3 linked regions of the Homo sapiens genome follow. The protein of the gene in region 1 purifies or fractionates together with the protein of each later gene. This does not show direct contact. Each region holds a gene or a part of one and is shown in the gene's direction. Other genes may lie near its edges.

Region 1 (11,218 bases):
GGAGAATCCATCTACTGTCAAGGAAATTTCAATTAAATATGGATGCCAATTAATTTAATTTATATTTCTGCATGAAAAATGTCATTCTATTATACATGCACTGGAAGGATGCCAGGAGCCCAAGTTAATAAATTACAGCTCTACCGACATAATGTGGAATCACAGACTAATCGGATACTTATTAAATGCCCACCTGTGCTTGGGGCTACACCTTGTAGAAATCCAGCTGAAATAAGGTCTGTCCAGTAAGGCCTGTCCTTACACTGTGATCATCTGACACCCTCTCTCATCCTCCTCTTCTCCTAGCTTTGGGCATGTCTCAGGAGAACAACTGTAAAAATGAATAATCAACATTCAATTGCCAGTCGTTATGAATGGGCATATTTAATGAATAAGGGAATGAATGAAGGGGAACTGTAAATAATCTATTCAAATTAATCGGGGAACAGGCCTACTCTGGTTAGCAGGAAACTTGCCATGATTATTTGATTACAGATTCAAATCAGCTGGTGGTGGGTAATAATAATACCTACTGGTTATGAAGTGCCAACTCTGTGCCACACTCCATGTTTTATTTTGCATCCTTGCTATGTGTTTTATTTTGAATCCTTACAATAATCTTTCAGGGTAAGGATTACTCCTTCCCACATCCCTCATTTTAGAGACACAAAAGCTGAAGTGCAGTACACAGAAATGACCTTGCTCAAGGTCATGTGATTAGTAAGACGCACACTCTCCTGTCCTGGCCGATTGTCTTTGCATCATATCTCTGTTCTCTAGGACAAGTGTCAGCACTCTCTCCATGGGGGATGGGCTGGTGACTGCCCTATTCTGGCAGTGCTGACACACTGGAGAGTTCTTCATGCACTACAGTGATGATTAAATCACCAGGAGATGACTCTGTAATACCCCCTGCCTGGGAATTCATCCTGCTCTCCTCTGCTGCAGTTCTGTATAGTCGTGAAACGGATGTCACTCAGTTGCAACAAGTTCTCGAGTAGCCACTCATTGTTTTAGCCAGTTATTTATTCACCATTCACTAAGCACCCACTATGTGCTAGGTCCTAGGATCCAATAAAGTAAAAGGAGGTCAGACTAATGGGGAAGACAGATGCCCTAACACAAAATTGCAGTGTGTGTGGTTTAATACCACGGAATTGCTAACGTTCCTTTTGTTGTTTATTCAATCAATCCTTATACCCTGTATGAACACTTACAGAGTCTCTATAACATACTGGACAACAGGCCCGTTCTCACATTTTCAAGCCAGGGCAGGAAAAGTCATGAAAGCCATCAGCCTGAGTCTGTTCTTCTGACTTCCTCTTTCTTCCCATACCTGACTTCATCTTGCACTGCAAGGGGCCTCCCATGTATGTGTCTGGGCATCCCAGCCTATGTGTACAAATTTTGAAACACCTCCCGCCAGAACCTCTTAACATCAGGAAGAGGCTTCTGTGCAGCCTAGAAGCAACTTTTGGCCTCTTTGAGTAGGGAGTGCTGGGATCCAGGACCCAGAGAGTGGTACAAAAAGGGAGGGAATGGGCTTTGGGTGGGCACTGCCCTCTGGCTCTATTCACTCTTTCCCCTGTGGCTGCAGACAGGGCAGAGGAAGGCCAGAGGGCCTCAGAGTATGGTCCTCAATGCAGCCACTTGGCATCACCTGGAAACTCATTAGAAATGCAGAATCACAGGCCCCACTGCAGACTTTGTGAGAGTCAGGTCTGCTTTTTTTTTTTTTTTGAGATGGACTCTTGCTCTGTCACCCAAGCTGGAGTGCAGTGGCGTGATCTCAGCTCATTGCAACTTCTGCCTCCCGGGTTCAAGCAATTCTCCTTCCTCAGCCTCCTGAGTAGCTGGGGTTACAGGTGCACGCCACCACGCCCGGTCAATTTTTGTATTTTTAGTAGAGATGAGGTTTCACCATGTTGGCCAGGCTGGTCTCAAACTCTTGACCTCAGGCGATCCGCCCGCTTCGGCCTCCCAAAGTGCTGGGATTACAGACGTGAGAGCCACTGTGCCCGGCCAGATCTGCATTTTAACAAGATTCCCAGGTATTTCATGGCCTTTTGAGAAACACTCTCTAAGGGCCCTAGCTTAAGCCCCTCTTTTGGTAAATGAAGAGACTGAGGCTGCCCGAAACACAGGGCAGGAAGAGGGGCCTGGCCTGGGGCTGGGTTGCCCAGGTCTGAGAGTGTCCTTCTAGGCACCTTGCTATTCTCTAGGGTAAACATGTGCCACAGCAAATTTCAGAGAAAACACCTTTCGAGTAACTCAGATTGAGAGGGGCCTGGAGTAAGAGATTTACAACAAGCGATCCAAGGAAGAGAATTCCATGAAGTCATGGGCAAGGTAATTAAAGGAAAATTAAATTAAAGTGTTTTTTTCTGAATTAAAGGAGAGTGAAAACAAGTCATTGCACAAGCAAACTTGAGGGAGGGTTGAGGAACTCTTGTTTTTCATTTTGTTTCTGAGGCCAATGCAAATGAGCTGGAGTAGACTCTTCCATAGTCCAGTGAACTGCCCTTTTTTGTTTTTGTTTTTGTTTTCTGCATTCCTTTAGCCTTCCTCCTTTTTCCTCAGTATATTTTAGTTCCCAAACCTTTCTGATCCATGTGGCCCTTCACCTCCCTGCTTTTGGTTTTCTCAAATCATTCACTCAGCTCCAAAGAATATAAAAAAGATAAGTCAACAGAACAATTTTTTTCTTTTTTATTTTTTTTGAGACACGGCATCACTGTTCACCCAAGCTGGAGCGCAGTGGTGCCACCGCTGCACACTGCAGCTTCCACCTCTTGGGTTCAAGTGATCCTGCCACCTCAGCTACCCCAGTAGCTGGGCCTACAGACATGTGCCGCCATGCCCAGCTAATTATATTTTTATTAGTAGAGATAGGGTCTCACCATGTTGCCCAGGCTGGTCTTGAACTCCTGAGCTCAAGGGATCCTCCCTCCTCGCCCTCCCAAAGTGCTGGGATTATAGGCATGAGCCACCATGTCTGGCCAGAACAAAGTTTAAAAATATGGTCAGCAAATATGTCCTAAGAATATTAAATGCATCGGCTGGGCGCAGTGGCTCACGCCTGTAATCCCAGCACTTTGGGAAGCTGAGGTGGGCGGATCACCTGAGGTCAGAAGTTCGAGACCAGCCTGGCCAACATGGTGAAACCCCATCTCTACTAAAAATACAAAAATTAGCCGGGCATGGTGGTGGGTGCCTGTAGTCCCAGTTACTTGGGAGGCTGAGGCAGGAGAATTGCTTGAACCCAGGAAATGGGGGTTGCAGTGAGCCGAGATCATGCCATTGCACTCCAGCCTGGGCAACAGAGTGAGACTCCGTCTCAAACAAAAGGAAAAGAAAAGAAAAAAAGAGTTGCATTTCGATTTTATAAGTTCCCTTCAGCCAGCTACAGTTATCTACATGTTGCCAGTTGTGTTTCAGTTCTGCCTAGCCCATCTTCTCATCCCTATTGCTCACCTATCTTTTCTTTTTCCTCCTACCCTCCCTCTTTTCTTTCCCTTTCTTTCTGCCTTTCTCTCCTCTCTTTCTTTCTTGCTGGTGTTTATTAAAGCATAGTCCAGACATCATGTCAATTAACTCACTTCCTACAGAGTTTCCTTGAGGCAGGGCCACAAGAGAATGTATGTAGGCTGGGGAAATGATCTCTTATGATTATGTTCTTGACCAAAATAAGGAATTTGTGTTACTGAGATAAGAAACAATAAAGAATTTCCAAAACCTCTTCATAATACCCCAGATATTGTGGACTTTATTTTCTATCTCTATGTCTTCCCCCTAGAGTCTTTCAGGGGTGTCTATGAGAACTTTTTCATCTTCCTTTACTATTAAACTAGTAACAGAATAACAAAAACTTTGGATGTTTATATATCTAAAAAGAGGTGAATATTCTCTTTCTGTTGGTGAAAAGGATTCTCAGGGCATCAGTTTTGAAGTTAAAATTTGACAATGGAAAGTTTGCAGAGATCTTCTATGACAAGAAACCAAACATATCACTGCCTCCCCCCAACCCCTCGCCCAGGCAAACTCCTGAAGCTGATTGTTGTAATGGTTTTAAAGGTGCTTAGGATGAGGACCTAGATCTGAAGCATGGTGCACAGTTGTTTACTGTTCACACAAGTCAGATCTACGAAGGATCAAGTAATTTGGAGGTTTGGTTACTTTCCATTAGTAAACATCATCCAACTAAATTTGGGTAAAATGCCCTCTAAATAAGTCAAGTAGACAGGAGCTTTGAATGAGGGAATTAATTATAGCTGGTGTCTCCAGGAAAAAGAATCCCACTGTGGCATGGAGAATGTAATTAATGGGAGGTAAGTGCCAACAAATCACTCCTTAAAATATTAATGCTATCAAAGAACAGCTGGATAATGAGAGAAACTTGACCCTTGGGGGACCAGCAAAGGTTGCTGCTGCAGCAGAACTTTATGCAGTTATGACGTAATGAAATTCCTCTAAATTTTAACAAAAACTAATATTAAAAGGTGTGGTTCTGGGAAAGTTATTAGCAGTAAACATGTCATAATTTTTATCATCTGATTATAATCACTATATCTCATTTTTGCTGTGTTTCTAAGTGACATTTTCCTGTAATTGCTCAGGATATATATACAATTGAAACAACACTCCTAAAAAACAACTAGAGTTAAAAAAAAGATTAAGTCTGGCAAGACCTTTTTTTTGTAAATAAAAAACCCAATATCTAAGAAATTTCTGCAAAACAATTTCCCATATGCTTAAACTATTTAACTAAAAAACTGTTTCATTGTTTGTTATTGAAAGCTCCAACTTAATTTGTTTTTACTTAATAGCTTCGTATTGTCCTAAGAAATATGTAACTCTAAGAGAGCAATAAAGTTAAATATTTACACGGTCCCACTTAACGTGTGAAATGGACATGTATTTTCAGCAGCCACATAACTAAATGCTAATCCCAATACCTAAAATTAGAAATCAGAAGTAATTATTTAATTGGAATATACTTTAACTTAGATAAAAAAAAAAAAAAAAGAAATCGTTTTAATAGGAGATTTTTAAAAAAGTTTCTCCGGAATCGACTCGGTTCATCAGGAAGCTGCGAACGTGATAAATGCGTTTGACCGCGCACCTTGTGTCGCTGGAGCTGAGAACACTTTGTTCCTTTTGTTTCACTCAACTTGCCGACATCTAACTCAGGGACACGGGTATGCAGCTTGTTTGACAAATAAGCCGAGATACACCGAACATATTCACACATACCAATAGACGATGATTGGAAGTTCAGGATGCAGTCAAAATAAATGCTTGCGTTTGGCCCAGGTTTCACATAACACCAGTTTCATAAGGCACTTAGGCCGCTAACGGAGCAGTGCCCCTGAAAATAGCCCACAGGGGACACATCATTTAAATAAATGTGTTTCTTTCCCTGAACAGAAGTTCAGTTCTGCTCAATTATCATTAATTTTGCTCCTTTATTTCCTTTGCGGGCGTGAACGGAGAAGTCGTGCTCTTTGAGGTTTTGCGAGCTGGCCTTGGCTGGCAGAGGTGACCGGCAATCCTTCAGCCGGCGGAAAAAGTGCGAGTGTGTGTGTGTGTGTGCTTGTGAAAATGTGCCGTTCCTCCCAGAAAAAGTGGAAACGTAGGTGGAAAGCTCAGCACATGTTGGCGACACCTAAAAACCATGTTCTCGGTCCTGAACCTTTAGAAGCGGTATCCCAGGAACGAGTCTGAGTCTGTGCAACAGGGCACAGATGATTCGACAAACTTCAATGACTGCACCGCATTCATGCATTATATCCATTGAAAAGTAAATCCAGCGTCTCCACTCGCGCGCCCACGTGCGTGGATAAACGCGGGAATTCGGCAGCCCTCAACGTCACTCTGCAGAGATTTCCGGGCTGTGAGAGAGTTGGGGTGTGCGGCGGGGGAGGGGAGGGTCTGATATCTTCAGGTTGAGAGTCAAGTCCTGGGGGAGCGGCATGGGCGGGGGTGGCCGGGGGGAGGCGGAGGATGGAGCGCGAACCAGAAAGCGCAGAGGACCCTCGGCCCGCGCCGCACCCGCTGTGATTAGCTCCAGAGGCGCGATCCGGGAGGGCGGACTCTTTCTTAACCCTCATTGTCTCCTCCTCCCTCTTCCTTTTTAAAAGACGCCTTGCGGGCAGAGCTGTCAGCAACCCCGCGGCCGTTTGTACTTGGCCGCGGCGGAGCTGACTCCTGCTCCTGTGACAGATAGGGGCTGGGGCTGAGCGGCCGCCTGTCTGGGGTACTCGCACGTGGGGAACAAATTCTTTTCCTCCGGCTCCTCTCGGGACCCGGCGATCGCCACAGGTTGGGACTCTGTGCGGCGCTGGAGTTGGCAGCCCCGGGCGCTATGGCTCCCTTGAGGAGTGGGGAGGGAGGTGGCCGGGGGGTTGGCGCGCCCCTCGCGCGGGGAGCGCTATGAGCCGGGCGAAGGGCGGCAGCGACAGCCCCAGCAACTGCCTCTGCCGGCGCCTCCCGCAGGCCCTCGCCAACTCGCCCCGCGCACCATGCTGACTCCCGGCCTGCGGAACTCGTAGTGCAGCCCCTGTCGCCTCCCCGGCCCCTGCTATCCCACGCAGGACTGGCTTCGGCCGCCGGGGCCAGCAGCTTGCGACGTGTCCCTGGGGAGGCGGAATCGCTGTGCGCCCTGAGCCCGGGCTCAGCCCTTCGCTTTCCAGCTGCGTCCTGCTCCCGGCCGCCCAGGGAGCCCAGTGGCGATGAGGGCACTGCTGGCGCTTTGCCTTCTCCTTGGCTGGCTGCGCTGGGGCCCGGCGGGCGCCCAGCAGTCCGGAGAGTACTGCCACGGCTGGGTGGACGTGCAGGGCAACTACCACGAGGGCTTCCAGTGCCCAGAGGACTTCGACACGCTGGACGCTACCATCTGCTGCGGCTCCTGCGCGCTCCGCTACTGTTGCGCCGCGGCCGACGCCAGGCTGGAGCAGGGCGGCTGCACCAACGACCGCCGCGAACTGGAGCACCCAGGCATCACTGCGCGTAAGTGCGGGGCCCTCGGGGACATATCCCCGCCCGCCTAACGGCGGCGGCTGCATGTGTGCGCGGGAGGATGCACAGACCCAGGCAGGTCTATGCGCCTTCCTGGGTCTGTGCGCCAGGGGGACGCGGCCGGGTGGGGGAATCAAGGGATGAGTGGGTGGTCGCGTTTCAGATCATGGTCCTCTATTCATTTGCAGTCCCGCTTCCCGCCACTTGCGGTCTCTGCGGGTCGGCCCGCAGGGAAAGTTTGCCAGGGACAGTGAGGAGCGCGGGGCTTGTGCCTGGTAGCCGGGGGGAAGACAGCTGGAGCTCCCGGGAGAAGGGTAGTGCGGGTAAAGCCAGGGTAGACTTGGGTTTTGGTGGAGGGGCCGAGGGTGTCCCATTGCTCGCCCTTGTCACTTCGGGAGCTTCGGGAAGTGCCGAATGCAGGGAATCGCGACTCTTGTCGCGCGCTCATTTGCAGCCCTTCAGGGCTAAGAAACCCCAGTCACTTTTTTTTTCTGTCTTAATGATAGCGTTTCTAAGCCACGGCCCCGTTCTGCAGACTTCCTTTCAATTCTCTGCATCGAATTACCCTCTCCGGCCCACCCCCTATTGTCACGCCTTTCAGAAATGCCCAGGTCTTCGAGGTGGAGATTTAGAAACAAGGGTCGAAGGGGCTTCCCCGCCCCCTATTCTCACTTCGGAAAACACGGGTCAAATTTCCGCTGACTTCAGAGCGGAATAAATCACGACCCCAGCAGAGAAAATTTACACCTTGAAAAAAAGTTTTCCACCTGAATCGGAACATCAGGGAAACGCTTTAGAGCTTGAGGCGAGGGTTTTATGGCCAGGGAAACCGGAGAAGCGGGCGGAGCTGAGAGCGGGTGACACCCCAGGACTCCAGAGAGCCGAGGTCTGGAGCCCGCAAGAGAAGGTCGCCGGGAAAGGGAAGAGAGGCTGGAGAGATCATTAAGGGTTCCCCAACGGCCCCTCCCCGCAAACTGATAACCCAGAGGACAGGGGAGTCTGCCCTCCATTAGTGCTCCACTAGAGGGTGAATGTTGGGGGTCAACATTTCCAATCTAGAGGATTCTGGAAGTAGTTCTGGAGAAAAGATGCTCAGCGGAAAGTAGGGAAATCTAGGCCCTCCTGGCCTGTTAGAAAAATATAGACTCTTCCCCACGGCTTCACTCGCTCACCCTGGGGGACCCAGCTGCCCTCTGGGAGTAAGTGCAATTGCCCAGTCTGCAGCACGGGCTTCCTCTGCGCTCCCTACTCGGCTCGGATGCCAGAGGACAGCAGAAGGGAGAGGCAGTCTCCACACTCACTGAGTCTGGGATCAGGCAAACCCTGATGGACCTTGGCTCTGTCACTTGCCGGCGGTGTAACTTGGGCAAGTTACTTAACTGCTCTGGATACCTCTTCTCAGTTCTAAAGTGGGCATATTGCTCTCAAAGGAGTTAAGTTGTTGGTGACGTGAGAGTGTATGAATGCTGGAGCGCAGGGCTCAGTAAATGGTAGTTACTTACCTTTGCCTTGCCTTGCACGCTGGTGCTAGTAAACAAGGGAGAATGGGAGGGACACAGAAGAGCTTACGCCTAGTAGCCCACAAATAATTGATAGTTACCTGTCCCTCACTAGCTCTGTCTGTGGGAATGCGCAAACTTCTCTGATGTATTTCCACATCTGGAAAATGGAGCTTATCATGTCCATCTCACAGGGTCTCCAAGAGACTTTAATCAGATAATGAATAAGAAAGAGCCAGGCACACAGTAGGGACTTAGTCAATGCAGGCTTTCTTTCTTCTACCTGTAAGCTGGAGGCTGCGTCTTAGCACGGCTCTATCAGGGGAGAGACCTGGAGAACTGCCCAAGGGGATGCCTCCGGGCTTGGGAATTTTATGTCTGCCTTGTAGAGAGAGAAGGAAATTGGAGTTTGCTCTGTTTGAGGGATGCTTTTATAGAAAGTCTGGGCCGTGGACACCAAGAATTGCCTGGTGATCTATCTAAAGTTCAGTCTGACTTCCCAGGCTTGGATGGGAATTGAGAGGCACGGCAGCTGGAGTGGGTATTCCAAATCTTTCCTGGAAAGAAGCAGCCAGAGCTGGCAATTTGTGGTGTATGGTAGGAGACACAGTCGATTGGGGCCCTCTGTGAATTTCTTTATACTGTTCTTTCTGGAGTCTCATAAAATCCTGGGTCTGTGTGTAGAGGGGAATCTCATTTAATAGGCCTGGCTCCCTTTGCTTAGACTGGAGATTATTGAATGGGAGATGGATTGCCAGCCTAAGAGAGGGGACAAGTCTCTTACTGCTCACCGTGATCAAACTACTAAAACCTGCATTTAAACCTAGAATTATTTTAACCCCTAAAACTCACCCTTTCCCTCTAGTGCCTGAACAGGAGAACAGATTCCGTTTTTTTTTTCTGACTTCCAGATGTGCAATATGATAGTTAATTGCTAACAGAGGCTACGGTATCCGTTTGCTTCCTCCCTGCTAGGAGTAGCGAGAATATTCCATCATCACGGTTTGCATTGCATTTTGGAGGTTACCATTAACAAGCTCTGAAAAACTGAGCTGACAGCAGTGATAGTAACTGAGTCTCCCACCTCTCAACCCTCAGCTGCCCAAGCAGAGTTCAGAATCTGGGAGATCCTCATCTGAGCATCTGTTTATGTCTGTTTTTGCCTTTTAGAGCCTGTCTACGTCCCCTTTCTCATCGTCGGCTCCATCTTCATTGCGTTCATCATCCTGGGCTCTGTAGTGGCTATTTATTGTTGCACCTGTTTGAGACCCAAGGAGCCCTCGCAGCAGCCAATCCGCTTCTCACTCCGCAGCTATCAGACAGAGACCCTGCCCATGATCCTGACCTCCACCAGCCCCAGGGCACCCTCCCGGCAGTCCAGCACAGCCACGAGCTCCAGCTCCACAGGCGGCTCCATCCGCAGGTTCTCCTTTGCCAGGGCTGAGCCGGGCTGCCTGGTGCCCTCACCGCCCCCGCCATACACCACCAGCCACTCAATCCACCTGGCTCAGCCATCTGGTTTCCTGGTGTCACCCCAGTATTTCGCTTACCCCCTCCAGCAGGAGCCCCCACTGCCTGGGAAGAGCTGTCCAGACTTCAGTTCCAGTTGACACGCCCAGGCCATGAATCCACAACTCAGTCAGATGGCAGACAGGTGGAGCCCTGCTCCCATTGCCACATGCAATTCTGAGAAAATTTCCCTTGTAACTGATCAGTGTCATGGAGGAGCATGCTAGGAAAACACAGCACCTTCTAATTTGAAAGTTCCTGTCTCCAATCACAGAAAGGCTAAACCAGAGAACTGTTTTCTGGTTTTGCAAACATGTGATCATTACATTTCAATCTATGCTACTTTTATTCAAAATATGCAGCAGTTTGACTTTAAAGTTGCAAACTGGCTAAAAACGTTTTACTGGACATTCAGCTATATTGCTTAGAAAAGGGCTACATGTTTCTTTTTCATATAAGTTGTTCATTGAGTTATGATAGGAATATATTCATAAATAAGCAAAGAAAAATACCTAATTGTAATTATCAAAGGTTCACTTAAAAAATTAACTATTAGGTAAACTTAAGGGGGCAGTGAAAAATCTATTTATGATTTCGGGAGTAACCTAACCATGAATAATATTAGCATAATGAGAACATTTACTTTTTAAATAAATAACTAAATTTTGTTTACAATATGAGTTTTTCCAGAATACAAGGTTTCAATAATCACATGAGGAGTTTAAAGTTTTAAATATATACTCAGACATTCATTGTAACACAGAGTGTATGTAAAATCATTTCCCCCACTCACTGGAGGGAGTATTTATTGCAGACTTTTTGTTCAGCAACATTTAGTGTTTCAGTGAAAGTTGGACAGTTGGGGCTTAAAACATTTATTTGTAAAATGAGCTATGTTCAAATGTAAATATTTGTAATTTAATGTATTTACCACATTGACTGTACTAATTATTTAGTAGTCATACTGTAATTTTTATGTTAATAATAACTGGAGTTCAAAGTCTAGCTATTGGTATAATCATCTAATATTATATATATCTCCAGTGCCCCTGAATTTTATGTTTGATGACTATATATTTGGGCATATATCTTGTTGGATTAGAATAAATAAAACACTTTATATTTTCATGAACTCTATTTAAATTTTAATGTGATTCATTTTATCTCTTTAGCGATCCTTCTTTAAAAAAAAG
Region 2 (4,537 bases), on another chromosome or scaffold:
CATTGGCCACAACCACGTCTCCCTACTTAGGATGGGTGCCCTGAGGGCAGGGCGGGGAGGACTCCGGGCATGTCCCCAGGAATGGATAAACAATGCCCAGAGTGTCTTGTTAAAGAGCCCCTGGTGACTCCCAGCGGCTGGGTTGCAACCTCTGATTAAACCACCCTTTTCTCTTCCAGCAACAACTAAATGACTCCTCTGTCATCATCAGCGCCCTCAAGACCTACCTGGTGTCGGGGTAAGGAGCCCCTCGGAGACCAGGTGGCCATTGCTTTTGGTGGCTTCCTCCAGGGAGGCCTCCCCTGAGTTCCCTCCTGGGAGCACGTGGAGCTGCTGCTTAGATTTCCAGAGTACAGAGTGGCTCGCACCTGTAATCCCAGCACTTTGGGAGGCCGAGGCAGGCAGATCACCTGAGGTCAGGAGTTCCAGACCAGCCTGGCCAACATGGCGAAGCTCCATCTCTACTAAAAATACAAAAATTAGCCAGGCATAGTGGCGAGTGCCTGTAGTCCCAGCTACTCAGGAGGCTGAGGCAGGAGAATCGCTTGAACCCGGGAGGCAGAGGGTTGCGGTGAGCCAAGATCGTGCCACTGCACTCCAGCCTGGGTGACAGAGCGAGACTCCGTCTCAAAAAAAAAAAAAAATGATTTTCCAGAGTAGCCCGTGGCCGTCCTCCTCCAAGCCCCCTACTTTGTCCTCCCCACACCTCCCTCTCTTGGGGAGGTAGCCCTGGCATCTACTCCAAATCCCTCTTACTGCAAGAGTCCGGAGAGCCTTTGTTGGTCCTGGCTCCACTCTGAGGCTGGGGCAGCGGGGTTGGTCGGCCACAGGGGACGGAGGGGGAAGGAGTTGGGGTGATATTGTGGCTCTCTCCGAAGGCAGCCCCTGGAAGAGATCATCACCTACTACCCAGCCATGAAGGCTGTGAACGAGCAGGGCAAGGAGGTGACCGAGTTCGGCAATAAGTACTGGCTCATGCTCAACGAGAAGGAGGCCCAGCAAGTGTATGGTGGGAAGGAGGCCAGGACGTGAGTGGGGCTGGGGCTGGCGGGGGAAGGTGGTGACCGCAGGGGTCTTCTGTAGAGTAGGACCAAGCTGAGCAAGATGGCGTGAGCAGGGAGCAGCATGGGAGACCAGCGGGGCTGGGGCCGGGCCATGCCGGATTTCAGTAGAGACCTTCCTGCAGCCGGGCGTGGTGGCTCACTCCTGTAATCCCAGCCTGTTGGGAGGCCGAGGCAGGCAGATCACCTGAGGTCAGGAGTTCAAGACCAGCCTGGCCAACATGGCAAAACCCCATCTCTATAAAAATGCAAAAATTAGCTAGGTGTGGAGGCACACACCTATAATCCCAGCTACTAAGGAGGCTGAAGCAGGAGAATCGCTTGAACCCAGGAGGCGGAGGATGCAGTGAGCTGAGATGGTGCCATTGCACTCCAGCCTGGGTGACAGAGCGAGACTTTGTCTCAAAAAAAAAAAAAAGACCTTCCTGCTCAGGCTTCAGCTTCCCGCCCGTGCAGTGGGTATGTTCTAGAGAATGCAGCCTGCTCCCAACACAGCCCGGGTCCTGGCTTAGGAAGTCCCTCCCGTGCCCGCAGGGAGGAGATGAAGTGGCGGCAGTGGGCGGACGACTGGCTGGTGCACCTGATCTCCCCCAATGTGTACCGCACGCCCACCGAGGCTCTGGCGTCCTTTGACTACATTGTCCGCGAGGGCAAGTTCGGAGCCGTGGAGGGTGCCGTGGCCAAGTACATGGGTGCAGCGGCCATGTACCTCATCAGCAAGCGACTCAAGAGCAGGCAAGTGTGTGTGCACATCCGGGGCCTGCTGTCCCCGAGCCTCCGGTGCCACGAGCAGTGGTGATCCCATCACACCCCTCAGGAGACCAGCGGGAGGCCGAGGCCTAGGGCAGGTGGGAAACGCATTATGGATTATGGGTCCCTTGGCCAAGATGGGACTTGGACCCAGAGCTCCTGCTCACCTCCCCTGGGGACAGCAGGGCTGGCCTTGAAGCCGGAAGCCTGGGCCCTGACTGGCGCCTCCTCTGTGGCTTTCTCCCTGGCCTGGTCTCTTGCCTTTACCACAGCCTCCCCGTCTGGGACGGATGCTCCCTGAGGCGTCTGCAGATGTGATGCTCTCACCTGGGGTGCCGTCCTGGCTTCCACACCTCCCCCCTCTCCCCAGAGGAGACCCTCTTCCCTGCTGGGCTGGGAGTGGGGGCTCCCCTGAGGGGCTTTTCCCTTCCCCGCCCAGGCACCGCCTCCAGGACAACGTGCGCGAGGACCTCTATGAGGCTGCTGACAAGTGGGTGGCTGCTGTGGGCAAGGACCGGCCCTTCATGGGGGGCCAGAAGCCGAATCTCGCTGATTTGGTGAGTGTGGTGGTGGCAGGTGGTGCCTGGACCGAGGGTTCTGTCCTCAGAGTGGGGGAGGTTTGCAAGGGAAAGCCTGGACGGTGCTTGCATCTTGCCAGAGGAACCTGCCTCTCTCTGCCATCACGGACAGAAACTCGCCTCGAAGTGGCTCCAGGAGAGAAACAGATGACCAGGAACCGCCTTGGTTCACATAACTGACAAGTTCAGGGAACGGGTTGGCTTCGGGCCCTGCTGGATCCAGAGGCCCGGGTGGTGTTACCAGAGCCCAAGCTCTACCTGTCGCCATCAACACTGCCCTCCCTGGAGTTGGCTTCAGCCTCAGGCGGGCTGGGTCCGGTGCTCCAGGCTTCTCCCAGAAAACCCCTGGGAGGGCGTCTCACTGGCCTGGCTTCACTGCCCTTTTTCCTTTTGTTTTTTTTTGTTGTTGTTGTTTTTGTTTTTTTTTTGAGACCAAGTCTCACGCTGTCACCCAGGCGGGAGTGCAGCGGTGCAGTCTTGGCTCGCTGCAACCTCCGCCTCCCAGGTTCAAGCAATTCTTCTGCCTCAGCCTCCTGAGTAGCTGGGATTACAGGCCTGTGCCACCATGCCCGGCTAATTTTTGAATTTTTAGTAGAGACAGAGTTTCAGTATGTTGGTCAGGCTGGTCTCGAACTCCTGACCGCAGGTGATCCATCCACTTTGGCCTCCCAAAGTGCTGGGACTACAGGCGTGAGCCAGCGTGCCTGGCCCACTGCTCATTTTTAAAACTGTCCTGCCCCTGGGTGACCTGGGTCTTGAAACTGGGTGGTGGGGTCTCTTCTCCCCCATCTCAGGACCTGAGATGAGGGGAGGGCATTTATCCCAAGGAAACTTGCTGGGGGGCAGGGTCTGTGGCCCAGAAAAGGGGGTACAGATGTGAAGCAGGCGAGACCTGCAGCCACCCCACATGCTTTGTTCAAACCCTCACCTGTGCTGTTGGCCCTTGAGTGGGTCACGAGCTCCAAGGGGGGAGGGGACGGGACCTGGCCACACAGCTGGCAGGGAACGAAGGAGGTCTGGATGCCTGTCAAACCAGCTATGGTGACACGTTTCTGTTCGTGCCCCAGGCGGTGTATGGCGTGCTGCGTGTGATGGAGGGGCTGGATGCGTTCGATGACCTGATGCAGCACACGCACATCCAGCCCTGGTACCTGCGGGTGGAGAGGGCCATCACCGAGGCCTCCCCAGCGCACTGAATGTCCCCGCGCAGAGCAGAGGGAAGGCAGCGGAAGACGCCAGCTGCCAGGGCCTGGGGCCACTGGGCCAGCGCCTGGCGATACTGGTTGGGGGCAGGATCATTCTGCCCCTTGTCCACGCACCCCCACCAGCCCTCTCGCTTCTAACACAGGGCACCTGCTGGGGCTCAGGGATGTTAGGGACGAGTTCCAGCCCTGCCACTGCCCTGGGGCGACCCCTCCCTGTCCCTGCCTCCCTGCTCTGCCGCCCCTCTTCCTGGACCCTCAGTGGCTGTCCCATGGCTACATCCTGTGGGTGGGGGCCCTCGACAGGACAGCAGGACGGTTTGTTTTCAGTGGAATCCCATCCCTGGGTTCCCCTGGTTCCCACTCTTCCCAAGCCTCCCGGGACTGGGACATGTTTGCAATAAAGGAAAGGTTTGTGGCGCCTGTCATGGCAGGCATCTCATGGAGCTCCGTGTGGCTGAGTGCTGCGTGGGGCTGGCGGTCAAGGGAGGCATCAGGCTTGGGCTGTGCCAGCCCTTGTGGTAACTAACCGCTGGCCTGGGGCTTCCCAGGTGTCAGGCACGGTACGGCTCCGCAGGCTTTGTGTGGCATCGTCCCCAGGATACCACTCAGGGCACACAGCTGGGCCGTGGAGCCCAGCAGCCAGAGTGCAGGTCGGGGCACCCTACCCACGGTGGGGCTCTGCAGTGGGGTCACTCATCAAGCCTCAGTTTCTTCGTCTGTCCCCGCCTTGTGGGAGAGTTCAGTGATAGGAGCAGGTGCAGTGCACAGAGCCGGGTCACCTGGTCCAGGGCACCAGGCTATTCAGACCCCTGCTCTACAGACAGAACCAAGCCCTCTCAGGTGGCGGCCCCGGGCTTCAGCTCCAGGCTGGGCCAGGCTTTATGGGAGAAGAGGCTCTGCCTTCCAGGGTGAGTGTGGGTTGTGGGTGGGACCCCCTTTCCTG
Region 3 (11,150 bases), on another chromosome or scaffold:
CCAGGCTGGAGCGCAGTGGTGCAATCTCGGCTCACTGCAACCTGTGCCTCCCAGGTTCAAGCAATTCTCCTGCCTCAGCCTCCCGAGTAGCTGGGACTACAGGTGCACGCCACCACGCCCAGCTAATTTTTGTATTTTCAGTAGAGATAGGGTTTCATCATGTTGGCCAGGATGGTCTCGATCTCTTGACCTCGTGATTCGCCCACCTTGGCCTCCCAAAGTGCTGGGATTACAGGCGTGAGCCACCGTGACTGGCAGTGGAGTTGATTATTTTACGTGCATTCATTATAAGCTTGGTGAACAAAGACAGCGAACATAAACACAAAGCTTAAACGTCTCACAGCTAACTTTAAAATCCAGCGGACTTATTGAGGGTGAGTTGGTGCACCTGAGAAAGAGATGGAGGGTGGAAAGGAGAAACTCAGTGTGGAGGTTCTCTGAAGCCCAGACAGGAGCAGGACGCTGACTAGGTAGGGCTGGGGCCGATGGAGGTGAGGAGTCAGTCCATTCTCCAAAAGAAGGACCCTGATGAGAAGGAAAGAGGATCTAAGATCTTCTCCAGGAGGAGGAAGGACTGATCAATTCTTGAAACTCTAAAATGATGGCTTACAATGTGCTAACAAACTGGCTTGGGTTCATCCTGTATAATATCCTCTAATTTAGAAACAGAAAAGGGGTTTAGTGAGTGGTGGTGGTGGGTGGTGATAAGTGAGAAGACCCTCCAATTCTCAATATCATCAATTTTTCTTTGATGCCTGTACACATGTTTGAGAAGGTTTTAAACTTCTCTGAATTTGGATTTGCAGTTTCTAGTAACACAGCAGTAAATCCTAGAGGAGAAGTTCTACAGAATCCAGATTCAAGTTTAGCAGCAACTGGGGATAAAGTGAAAAAGCAGGAGAAAAGCAGGTATAGTCTTAGACATAGATATTTTCTATTTTGCTAAAATACAGTAAGAAAAAAATCTGTGAACTTCAACAGTTCTAATAAAAACTAAATGAATGTACAGACACAGAACAAAATACATGATAACTATTAAATATAATTGCACCATGTTTATACATTGAGTTATTTAGTATAGTAGTCTAGGTATCAGTGCTGTTAATTTTCTCATTTTCTACTTTCTTCATTCATTTATTCAACAAATGTTTATTGAGAGATGTTTTGTGCCAGGCACTGGAATTATAATGATGAACAAGACATAGTCTTCTCCCCAACAATTATATCCTCTATCCTGGGAAATGATAAATAGCAATTTCCATATAGTATGACATGTGCCATGATAGATCTAAAGACAGGACTCTGGCTGGATGTGGTGACTCTTGCCTATAATTCCAGCATTTTGGGAGGCTGAGGAGGGAGGATTGCTTGAGGCTAGGAATTGAGACTGCCCTGGTCAACATAGTAAGACCCTGCATCTACAAAAAATTTTTTTTAAATTATGGCCAACCGCGTGGCTCACACCTGTAATCCCAGCACTTTGGAAGGCCAAGGCAGGTGGATCACTTGAGGTCAGGAGTTTAAGACCAGCCTGCCAACATGGTGAAACCCCGTCTCTACTAAAAATAGAAAAATTAGCCAGGGGTGGTGGCATGAGCTTGTAATCCCAGTTACTCGGGAGGCTGAGGCAGGAGGATCACTTGAACCCGGGAGGCAGACCTTGTAGTGAGTCAAGAGAATGCTACTGCAGTCCAGCCTGGGTGATGGGAGTGAAACCCTGTAAAACAAAACAAAACAAAACAAAACAAAACAAAACAAACAAACAAACAAAACAAAAAAACAAAAAAAAACAAAAAACATTGGCTCACGCATGTATTCCTAGCACTTTGGGAGGCTGAGGCAGGTGGATCACCTGAAGTCAGGAGTTCGAGACCAGCCTGGCCAACATGGTAAAACCCCATCTCTACTAAAAATACAAAAATTTGCTGGGCATGGTGGTGGGTGCCTGTAATCCCAGCTACTTGGGAGGCTGAGGCAGGAGAATCGCTTGAACCCAGAATGGGGAGGTTGCAGTGAGCTGAGATTGCGCCATTGCACTCCAGCCTGGGCGACAAGAGCAAGACTCTGTCTTTAAAAAAAAAAAAAAAATTGCCATGCATTGGTGGCACATGCCTGTAGTCCCAGCTACGCTGGAAGCTGAATCAGGGCAATTGCTTGAGCCCAGGAGTTCGATGCTGCAGTAGGCTATGATGGCACCACTGCACTCCACCCTGGGTGACAGAGCAAGACCCTATTTCTAAAATAAAAACAAAAACAGGCAGGACCCACTGGGAGCAGAAGTGAAAGGCACTACTCTAGGTCTTTTGGGATTGGTACAAAGCCACCATTCCAGTGGTACTGTGAGGTTGATAGCTGGAGGACAAGGGAAAACTACACAAAATAGAGTGAAGAAGCATGTGCAAAGAGCTGGAGGAGATCACCTGTGGAACTAGAACTGGTTGCCTGTTTGGAGATTTTAAAATGCCAGCCATCAGCCATGGTATTTATTGAGAACTATTCAGATTTTAAAGTAAATGCTTAACTAAATGTCACTAGAAAACAGTATTTTTCTTAGCCTTATAATGTAAACATGGGCTGGGCGCGGTAGCTTACGCCTGTAATCCCAGCATTTTGGGAGGCCGAGGTGGGTGGATCACCTGAGGTCAAGAGTTCAAGACCAGCCTGGCCAACATGGTGAAACACAGTCTCTACTAAAAATACAAAAAATTAGCCAGGCGTGGTGGCACAGGCCTGTAATCCTAGCTACTCAGGAGGCTGAGGCAGGAGAATCACCTGAACCCAGGAGGCAGAGGTTGCAGTGAGCTGAGATCGTGCTATTGTACTCCAGACTGGGTGACAAGAGCAAAGTTCCGTCTCAGTAAATAAATTAAGTAAGTAAACATGATAAGTTGACGATGTATCACAAATTCATCATCAAGATAATAGTTTCAGAGTGCAGGCTGACAATTTCATAGGGAAAGCAGAAGTAAAGGATAGCCAGAAATAGAAAGGCCCACATAGTGACTTCTTTTTTAAGAATTTCAATGCTCTGAAAGATCATGAATAAATAATATTATTTTCCAAAATGTACTAATGTATTTCATTAGATGTGTATAAAACAAAATACGTATAACATTGTGGCTGTTATTTAAACAATGGAAAGAAAGTGATGCCATTTTCCATTTACAATTTGTTTTAAAAATCAAAGATATGTAAATTTACTTCCCATATTTTGTTAGTGTATTTTCTTTTTTTCCAATTCCTGCTTATTCTGAAATAACAGCCAAGTATCATTTGATAATACTCAAGAAATAATAAAGTAGGTATGATAACTTTTAAAACCACCATAGGGCTTAGAGTTCAGGAGGTTCCGGCTCAGACCCATGTTTGGCAATGATAATCTCCTTAATTTCAAGAATTTTATAACCAAAAATGAGTTTTTGTCTTAGAAAGCCTATCACAAGAAAAAGTAGTGAGAAAAGCCTACGACTCCAGAAACTATTGGTCATAACTTTTCCTAAAAAGCAAACTACACAAAGTGAGACACGCAGTTGGGGTGTGGAGAGAGCAGTTTCTTTATTCATTTTTAGAATTAGAAGGGAGAAATTTGGCTGGGTGCAGTGGCTCATGGCTGTAATTCCAGCTCTTTGGGAGACTGAGGTGGGTGGATCACCTGAGGTCAAGAGTTCAAACCAGCGTGGCCAACATGGCGAAACCCCGTCTCTACTAAAAATACAAAAATTAGCTGGGTATGGTGGTGCACACCTGTAATCCCAGCTATCTGGGAGGCTGAGGCAGGAGAATTGCTTGAACCTGGGAGGCAGACATTGCAGTGAGCCGAGATCATACAACTGCACTCCAGCCTGGGCGAGAGTGAGACTCTGTCTCACAAAGAAAAAAAAAGGAAAAAAAGAAGGGAGAAATCCTGTTGATGGAGTTTATGGTGGCTGATGTCCTAGAAAGTACTGATTAGAAAGTATTAATTTATGTCTTAGAAAGTAATAACGGCCAGGCGCGGTGGCTCATGCCTGTAATCCCAGCACTTTGGGAGGCCGAGGCGGGTGGATCATGAGGTCAGGAGTTCGAGACCAGCCTGGCCAACATGGTGAAACCGAGTCTCTACTAAAAATACAAAAATTAGCCTGGCATGGTGGCAGGTGCCTGTAACCCCAGCTACTCGGGAGGCTGAGGCAGGAGAATCGCTTGAACCCAGGAGGCAGAGGTTGCAGTGAGCCAAGATCGTGTCATTGCACTCCAGCCTGGGCAACAAGAGCAAGACTCTGTCTCAAATAAAAAAAAAAAAAAAGAATAACAAGATTTATTTCATCAAATTTAAACAGAATTCACATTGACTTCACAGCCCTTTGAATATACTTGGACTTTAAGTTCAACTGTGCTGTTGACCAGTCTTTCCAAACGGTGTTACAGTACAAAGAGCATGGGCTGCTGAACCAGACTGACTAAATAGGAAACTCTGCAATGCCACTTGTCAGCTATGCATCTTGACCAACTTATTATTATTATGTTGCACGTGGGTCTTGAAATCCTGGGCTCAAGCAATCCTCTGGCCTGGGTCTCCCAAAGTGTTGGGGTTACAGGTGTGAGCCACCACTCCTGGTTTCCCCAAATTATTTAATCTCCCTGGGCCAGTTCTTTTACTCATAAAATGGATTTGTTTCTAACACAGAATTGTTGGAAACTTAAATGAGTGTCTAACGTGCCTCGTATTGCCAGACTCTCAATAAACTTTTGCCCAGTCAACTAATATCCAGCAAAGAGGCTAGCGATTTTTCTTTTTTTTTTGAGACAGAGTTTTGCTGTGTCGCGCAGGCTGGAGTGCAGTGGTAGCTCGATCTTGGCCCGCTGCAACCTCCGCCTCCTGGGTTCAAGCTATTCTCATGCCTCAGCCTCCCTTGTAGCTGGTATTACAGGCGTGCACCATCGCGCCCGACTAATTTTTTTCCCCCGAGAGGAGTTTTGCTCAGTCGCCCAGGCTGGAGTGCAGTGCCGAGATCTCAGCTCACTGCAACGTCTGCCTCCCGGGTTCAAGCGCTTCTCCTGCCTCAGCCTCCCGAGTAGCTGGGATTACAGGTGCGTGCCTCCACGCCCAGCTAATTTTTGTATTTTTAGTAGAGACGGGGTTTCACCACATTTGCCAGGCTGGTCCCGAACTCCTGACCTCAAATGAGCCGCTTGCCTCGGTCGGCTTCCCAAAATGCTGGGAGGCTAGTGATATTTAACGCTAAATAACTCTGGCCTCCAAAGATACCTGTTTCCATTTTAAGACACTTCTATTTCGTTTTGGGAGGGTAAACTAGTTATATTTTAATAATGAAAACATGTGTTACATAAGCACATAGTGAGTACTCGAATCAACCTCGGACTCTCCGGGCGTGAGGGGTGGGTGAGGGGACCGGCAGGTGGTCACAGCCCCATCAAAAGGGAGTTGGGGCTGGGGGATGTCGCGGTCAACTGGGAAAGGAGAGCCAATCAGCAAGTGGCGCGTCCCACGCCGTCTGTCAAATGCATCTGGGGGTTAGCTGTACTCATACATCTTGTGGGTGACTAGGTGACTTCCGTGTTCAAGACACAAGCGAGCTAAGCCTGGGATTTCAGTTTGCACAGCGCTTTGTTAAGTTTTGTCTCTCAATCTTGCTGTCCAAGAGCGAACCTGGAGGTCGTCTGTTAGCGGTAAATTCTTTACCCACATTCCGAAAAGGAAAACGGCGGCCGCGCGCGAGGACATATTCCTTGGATGGTCACTCAACCAGGACTCCGCTGCTCCCGCGCCCTAGCTTGACCTAGCGCACCGCCCCCTCCCCGACGCAGGCGCAGTCGCGGAGCTGTAGAGCCCCACGCAGCTGCAGAGCCATCGGGCTGCTGCGCCATGCGCGCGACTGGGAAAGAAGGGGTCGCGCTAGGCTTGCGTCACTCGTCTGCGACGGCGCCTTCGCGAAACACTATGCTAATGGCATGGTGCCGCGGTCCTGTCTTGCTGTGCCTGCGGCAGGGGCTCGGAACCAATTCATTCCTGCACGGCCTGGGGCAGGAGCCCTTCGAGGGAGCTCGGTCACTGTGTTGCAGGTCCTCGCCTAGAGACCTGCGAGATGGAGAAAGAGAGCACGAGGCGGCACAAAGGAAAGCCCCAGGAGCAGAGTCTTGCCCATCTCTCCCTCTGAGCATCTCGGACATTGGGACTGGATGTCTTTCGTCACTGGAAAACCTCAGACTGCCGACGCTGCGGGAAGAGTCATCCCCTCGAGAGCTCGAGGACTCGAGCGGAGACCAGGGCCGGTGCGGTCCCACACACCAGGGATCCGAGGATCCTTCGATGCTCTCGCAGGCCCAGTCCGCTACCGAGGTCGAAGAGCGTCACGTCTCCCCTTCTTGTTCAACTTCCAGAGAGAGACCCTTTCAGGCTGGGGAACTGATTTTAGCTGAGACTGGGGAGGGAGAAACAAAATTTAAGAAATTATTTAGGTTGAACAACTTCGGACTCTTAAATAGTAACTGGGGGGCAGTCCCGTTCGGCAAGATCGTGGGGAAGTTCCCCGGCCAGATACTGAGGAGTTCCTTCGGTAAGCAGTACATGCTGAGGAGGCCAGCCTTGGAAGACTATGTAGTATTGATGAAAAGAGGGACTGCCATAACATTCCCAAAGGTAATGCGATGGAGATAAGGTGTGTATTGGTTTCAGGAGGGGCAAAGACAGATGCAGTACTCAGTCCTGATTAATGTATTCAAAGACATCTCAGAACGTTTGGATTTTTTATTGTACTCAGGCTTTTAAAATAAACCAATGGTTATAACTTTTACATATCATGATGAAAATTAGCATTAGGGAACGGCTAGATTTTAATTTTAACTTAGGAGTCTCGAGTCCCTTATTTGTAAAATGTGGATAATAGCTCAACTTTCTGTTAGGGTGATGTGAACTCACTACGTACATAATAAGTACTAATTTTGTTCCCCATTACTCTTAAGTTTATAACTTCAGGACTCAAGAGAATGTTGAACTCTTAGGGAACAATTTTTTAGTACTACTATGATGATATTTTAATATTCAATAATCATGTTACAAGAGTATATTAACAATAGGTACATTACGGTGCTTTTCCCCTTTTAGGGAAGAAATAGAGTTTTATATTACAATAGCTAACATTCAACACCAAACATAAAATGACTATTCTTTATTAAAAAGTTAACTGCCTAAAGCCTAGTTTCAGTCTTTTTTTTAAGACAAGTTCTCACTCTGTCATCCAGGCTGGAGTGCAGTGTTGCGATCTTGGCTCCCTGCAACCTCTGCCTCCCGGGTTCAAGCGATTCTCCCACCACAGCCTCCTGAGTACCTGGGACTACAGGCATGCACCACCACCCCGGGCTAATTTTTGTAGAGACGGGGTTTCGCCTTATTGCCCAGGCTGGTCTTCAACTCGTGGCCTCAAGTGATCCGCCCACCTCGGCCTCCCAGTGCTGGGATTACAGGCGGGAGCCACCGCGCCCAGCCCTAGTTTGAAGCTTATGCTAATCATCTATTGCTAGCAGATTATTTCAATCCTTAGTCACAGTCCTTGAGTAGAATGTTCCTGTGTAACACAACTCCTCCTCCTTTCTCCAGATCAGGATTCATTCGTTATTTATTCAGCAAATTGACTGCCTTCCATACTCAAGGCACTGTTTAGGGAAGTATAGTGTTGAACTGCAGTCCTCACCCTCAACATAGACCTTACATTCTAGAAGGGGTGACAAAGAACAAACAAGTAAATGAAAGAATAAGGTCATTTCCAGTAGTGTTAAGTGTCATGAAGACAAATATATTAACAATGACATTGTTTTGGGTGACCTGGGGTATGAGCATACTTTATGTCAGGTGAGGAGAGATGGTCTCCAAGGAGGTACACTTGATAGGAAACCTAAATAAGGAAGAGCTTGCCTTGTAAACAGATCTAGGAAGAGAATTGTTCTTGCAAAGGGAGGAATGCTGCAGAGTTTCTGTTGTGGCCTCAATGGGTCAGATGAGGGACCCCGTATGAGGTGTGGTTTGAGTATTTTATTCCATTTGTAGTGAAGGACCATTAGAAGGTTCTTAGTAGGAATCCAGTCTGTATTTTAAACGGTCTACCCAGGGACTAAAAAAACTTTCCTCAGAAACTTAGGCTACTGAGGTATAATAAGCTTTTTTTGTTTAAAGACAAGGTCTTGCTATGTCACCCAGGCTAGAGTGCAGTGGCTCAATCACCTCTTACTGTAGCCTGAACCTCCCAGGCTCCAACAATCCTCGCACCTCAACCTCCTGAGTAGCTGGGACCACAGGTGCATGCCACTATGCCTAGCTAATCAAAAATTTTTTTTGTAGAGTTGGGGTCGCCCTAACTTGCCCAGACTGGTCTCAAACTTCTCTAGGCTCAAGGGATCCTCCCTTGAGGGTGCTGGGATTACAGGTGAGAACGACCGCTCCTGGCCATGGTATCATAAGCTCTTGAAGAAAACTAAAAGACTTTCGTAATTTTATCTTGCTTCCCCGTGTCTCCTTTCTCCCCATTAGACAAAATCAGGAGAGATTAGTTACATTTCATGAAGTTATAAATATGCATATTTAGTATACTTTCTGCCTTTCCATTTGTTACAGATAAAAGTCACATTGTTCCACTCTAAGGAGGAATTTAAGTACTAAATTTGTTAGGTGTTGACTTCTCTTTATAGCTTCCAAGTAATGGCTGGAGATAGTTTTACTTCAACTTCTACAACTTTGAAATGCTTGAGGGAATACCTTCACTGATGTTTAAAAACTGATCTCCCTGTTAGAATTACATAATTCCATCTTAGTATTAAAAATATGACCAGAGGCAGAGTGCAGTGGCTCACACTTGTAATCTCAATATTTTGGGAGGCTGAGGCAGGAGGATCATTTGAGCCCAGAAGTTTGAGACCAGCCGGGGCAACATAGGGAGACCTTGTCTCTACAAAAAATAAAAAATTAGCCAGGTATGCTGGCACACACTTGTGGTCCCAGCTACGCAGGAGGCTGAGATGGGAGGATTGTTTGAGCCCAGGAGTTTGAGGCTGCAGCGAGCCATGATCTTGCCACTGCACTCCAGCCTGGGCAACAGTGTAAGATCCTATCTCAAAAAAAAAGTGAGGGGGCAGGTGCCGTCACTCACACCTGTAATCTCAGTGCTTTGTGAGGCCAAGGCAGGAGGATTGCTGGAGGCTAGGAGTTCAAGACTAACCTGGCCAACATAGCAGGACCCCATCTTTATAAAAAATAAAAAAAAAATTAGTTGGGCATGGTGGTACATGCCTGTGGTCCCAGCTACTTTGGAGGCTGAGGTAGGAGGATTGCTTGAGCCCAGAAGTTCGAGGCTGCCGTGAGCTACTATTGCACTACTACACTCCAGTCTGAGTGACAGAGACCCTGTCACCAAGAAAATTTGTTTACTAAATTTAAAAAAACAGTTTTTATTAATATCATCCGTAATATTTGTGTTAACAAAAACAATTCCAATTATATGTTTGGCAAGTGGGTCCTCCAATCTAGTAATAGCATAGTCTCTTTTTTTTCTTATATAGCAGGGCTCCCCTACCCCCAGGCTGAGGACTGGTACCAGTGTGTGGCCTGTAACAGGGAACCGGGCCACACAGCAGGTTAGCGGTGGGTAGTGAGCATTACTGCCTGAGCTCCATCTCTTGTCAGATCAGCCATGGCATTAGATTCTCATAGGAGTGCAAACTCTTGTGAACTGTGCATGCACCAGATCTAGGTTGCATGCTCCTTATAAGAAACTAACTAATGCCTGATGATCTGAGGTGGAACAATTTCATCCCAAAACCATCCCCCTCTCCCCAGTCTGTGGAAAAACTGTCTTCCACGAAACGGGTCCCTAGTGCCCAAAAGGTTGGGGACCGCTGTTATATAGTATCTTAATTCTAAATTAGAAGTTCATCATTTGGCCAGGCACGTTGGCTCACACCTGTAATCCCAGCACTTTAGGAGGCCGAGGCGGGCAGATCACCTGAAATCAGGAGTTTGAGACCAGCCTGGCCAACATGGTGAAACCCCATCTCTACTAAAAATACAAAAAATTAGCTGGGTGTGGTGGTGGGTGCCTGTAATCCCAGCTACTTGGGAGGCTGAAGCAGGAGAATCGCTTGAACCCAGGAGGCGGAGCTTGCAGTGAGCCAAGATTGTACCACTGCACTCCAGCCTGGGTGACAGAGCGAGACTCTGTCCCCCCAAAAATAAGAAGTTCATCATTTTGAGCTGGGCACACTGGCTCACACCTGTAATCCCAGCACTGTGGGAGGCTGAGGCGAGCGGATCACCTGAGGTCAGGAGTTCAAGACCAGCCTGGCCAACGTGGTGAAACCCCATCTCCACTAAAAATACAAAAATTAGCCGGGCATGGTGGCAGGCACCTGTAATCCCAGCTATTCGGGAGGCTGAGGCAGGAGAATCGCTTGAACCCGGGAGGCGGAGGTTGCAGTGAGCCAAGATCGTGCCATCACACTCCAGCCTGGGGGACAAGAGTGAGACTTCGTCTCCCAAAAAAAAAAAAAAAAAAAAAAAGGAAATTCATCATTTTATGCAGAGATTATATAGTAAATTCCTAACTGGTCTTCCTGCCTCTTGATTTTTCTCCAGTAGATCCTGTATTCTTCTGCCAGATTAATCCTCATAAAATGCCATTTATATCACCTCAGTGACACACCCTAGTTGCTTATCAGGCTGAGTTCTAATGCCTCATACTGGCATTTAATTCTCTGCCTATCTCTCCTGAGATAACAAACTGGATTTATTCTACCTCTGCTTTGTTTAAAGCTGTTTTTACCTTGTGATTGTTCCCATAAATTGTCTACTCTTTGTCTTTAAACTAGGCCATCCTGCTACTCTATGAACTTATTGTCTGTAATTTTGGTATTATTCTGAAGTGTTGCCTTATTTGTTAATTGATTCTTGGATCTCTTTTATTTCATCAAGTGAAATATAAACTGAAGGCAGGTCCAGAGTCTGATTCGTTTTTTCACTCCCTTCTTCTGCACACCCAACAATGTAAGATAAGACTAGGTGCTTAGTACATATTTATTGGTCGCTGAGTCACCCATACTGTTTTCAATCATAGGATATTAATATGATTCTCTCAATGATGGATATCAACCCAGGTGATACTGTT

The links.
Region 2: the proteins of SHISA3 (region 1) and PTGES2 purify together in Homo sapiens (co-immunoprecipitation; 2 studies listed by BioGRID and IntAct, with this or other methods). This does not show direct contact.
Region 3: the proteins of SHISA3 (region 1) and TRMT61B purify together in Homo sapiens (co-immunoprecipitation; 2 studies listed by BioGRID and IntAct, with this or other methods). This does not show direct contact.

What each region holds. Positions count from the first base shown.
Region 1 is NC_000004.12:42,391,326-42,402,543, forward strand, and holds SHISA3 (protein shisa-3 homolog precursor), read left to right. Parts: upstream 1-6,162; 5' UTR 6,163-6,731; coding exon 6,732-7,008; intron 7,009-9,686; coding exon 9,687-10,126; 3' UTR 10,127-11,162; downstream 11,163-11,218. UniProt on the Homo sapiens protein: Plays an essential role in the maturation of presomitic mesoderm cells by individual attenuation of both FGF and WNT signaling.
Region 2 is NC_000009.12:128,120,193-128,124,729, reverse strand, and holds the end of PTGES2 (prostaglandin E synthase 2), read left to right. Parts: intron 1-179; coding exon 180-238; intron 239-878; coding exon 879-1,028; intron 1,029-1,595; coding exon 1,596-1,796; intron 1,797-2,083; coding exon of another isoform or gene 2,084-2,129; exon of another isoform or gene 2,130-2,244; intron 2,245-2,250; coding exon 2,251-2,368; intron 2,369-3,456; coding exon 3,457-3,585; 3' UTR 3,586-4,037; downstream 4,038-4,537. UniProt on the Homo sapiens protein: Isomerase that catalyzes the conversion of PGH2 into the more stable prostaglandin E2 (PGE2) (in vitro). The biological function and the GSH-dependent property of PTGES2 is still under debate.
Region 3 is NC_000002.12:28,865,069-28,876,218, reverse strand, and holds the start of TRMT61B (tRNA (adenine(58)-N(1))-methyltransferase, mitochondrial precursor), read left to right. Parts: upstream 1-5,909; 5' UTR 5,910-5,941; coding exon 5,942-6,640; exon of another isoform or gene 6,641-6,659; intron 6,660-11,099; coding exon 11,100-11,150.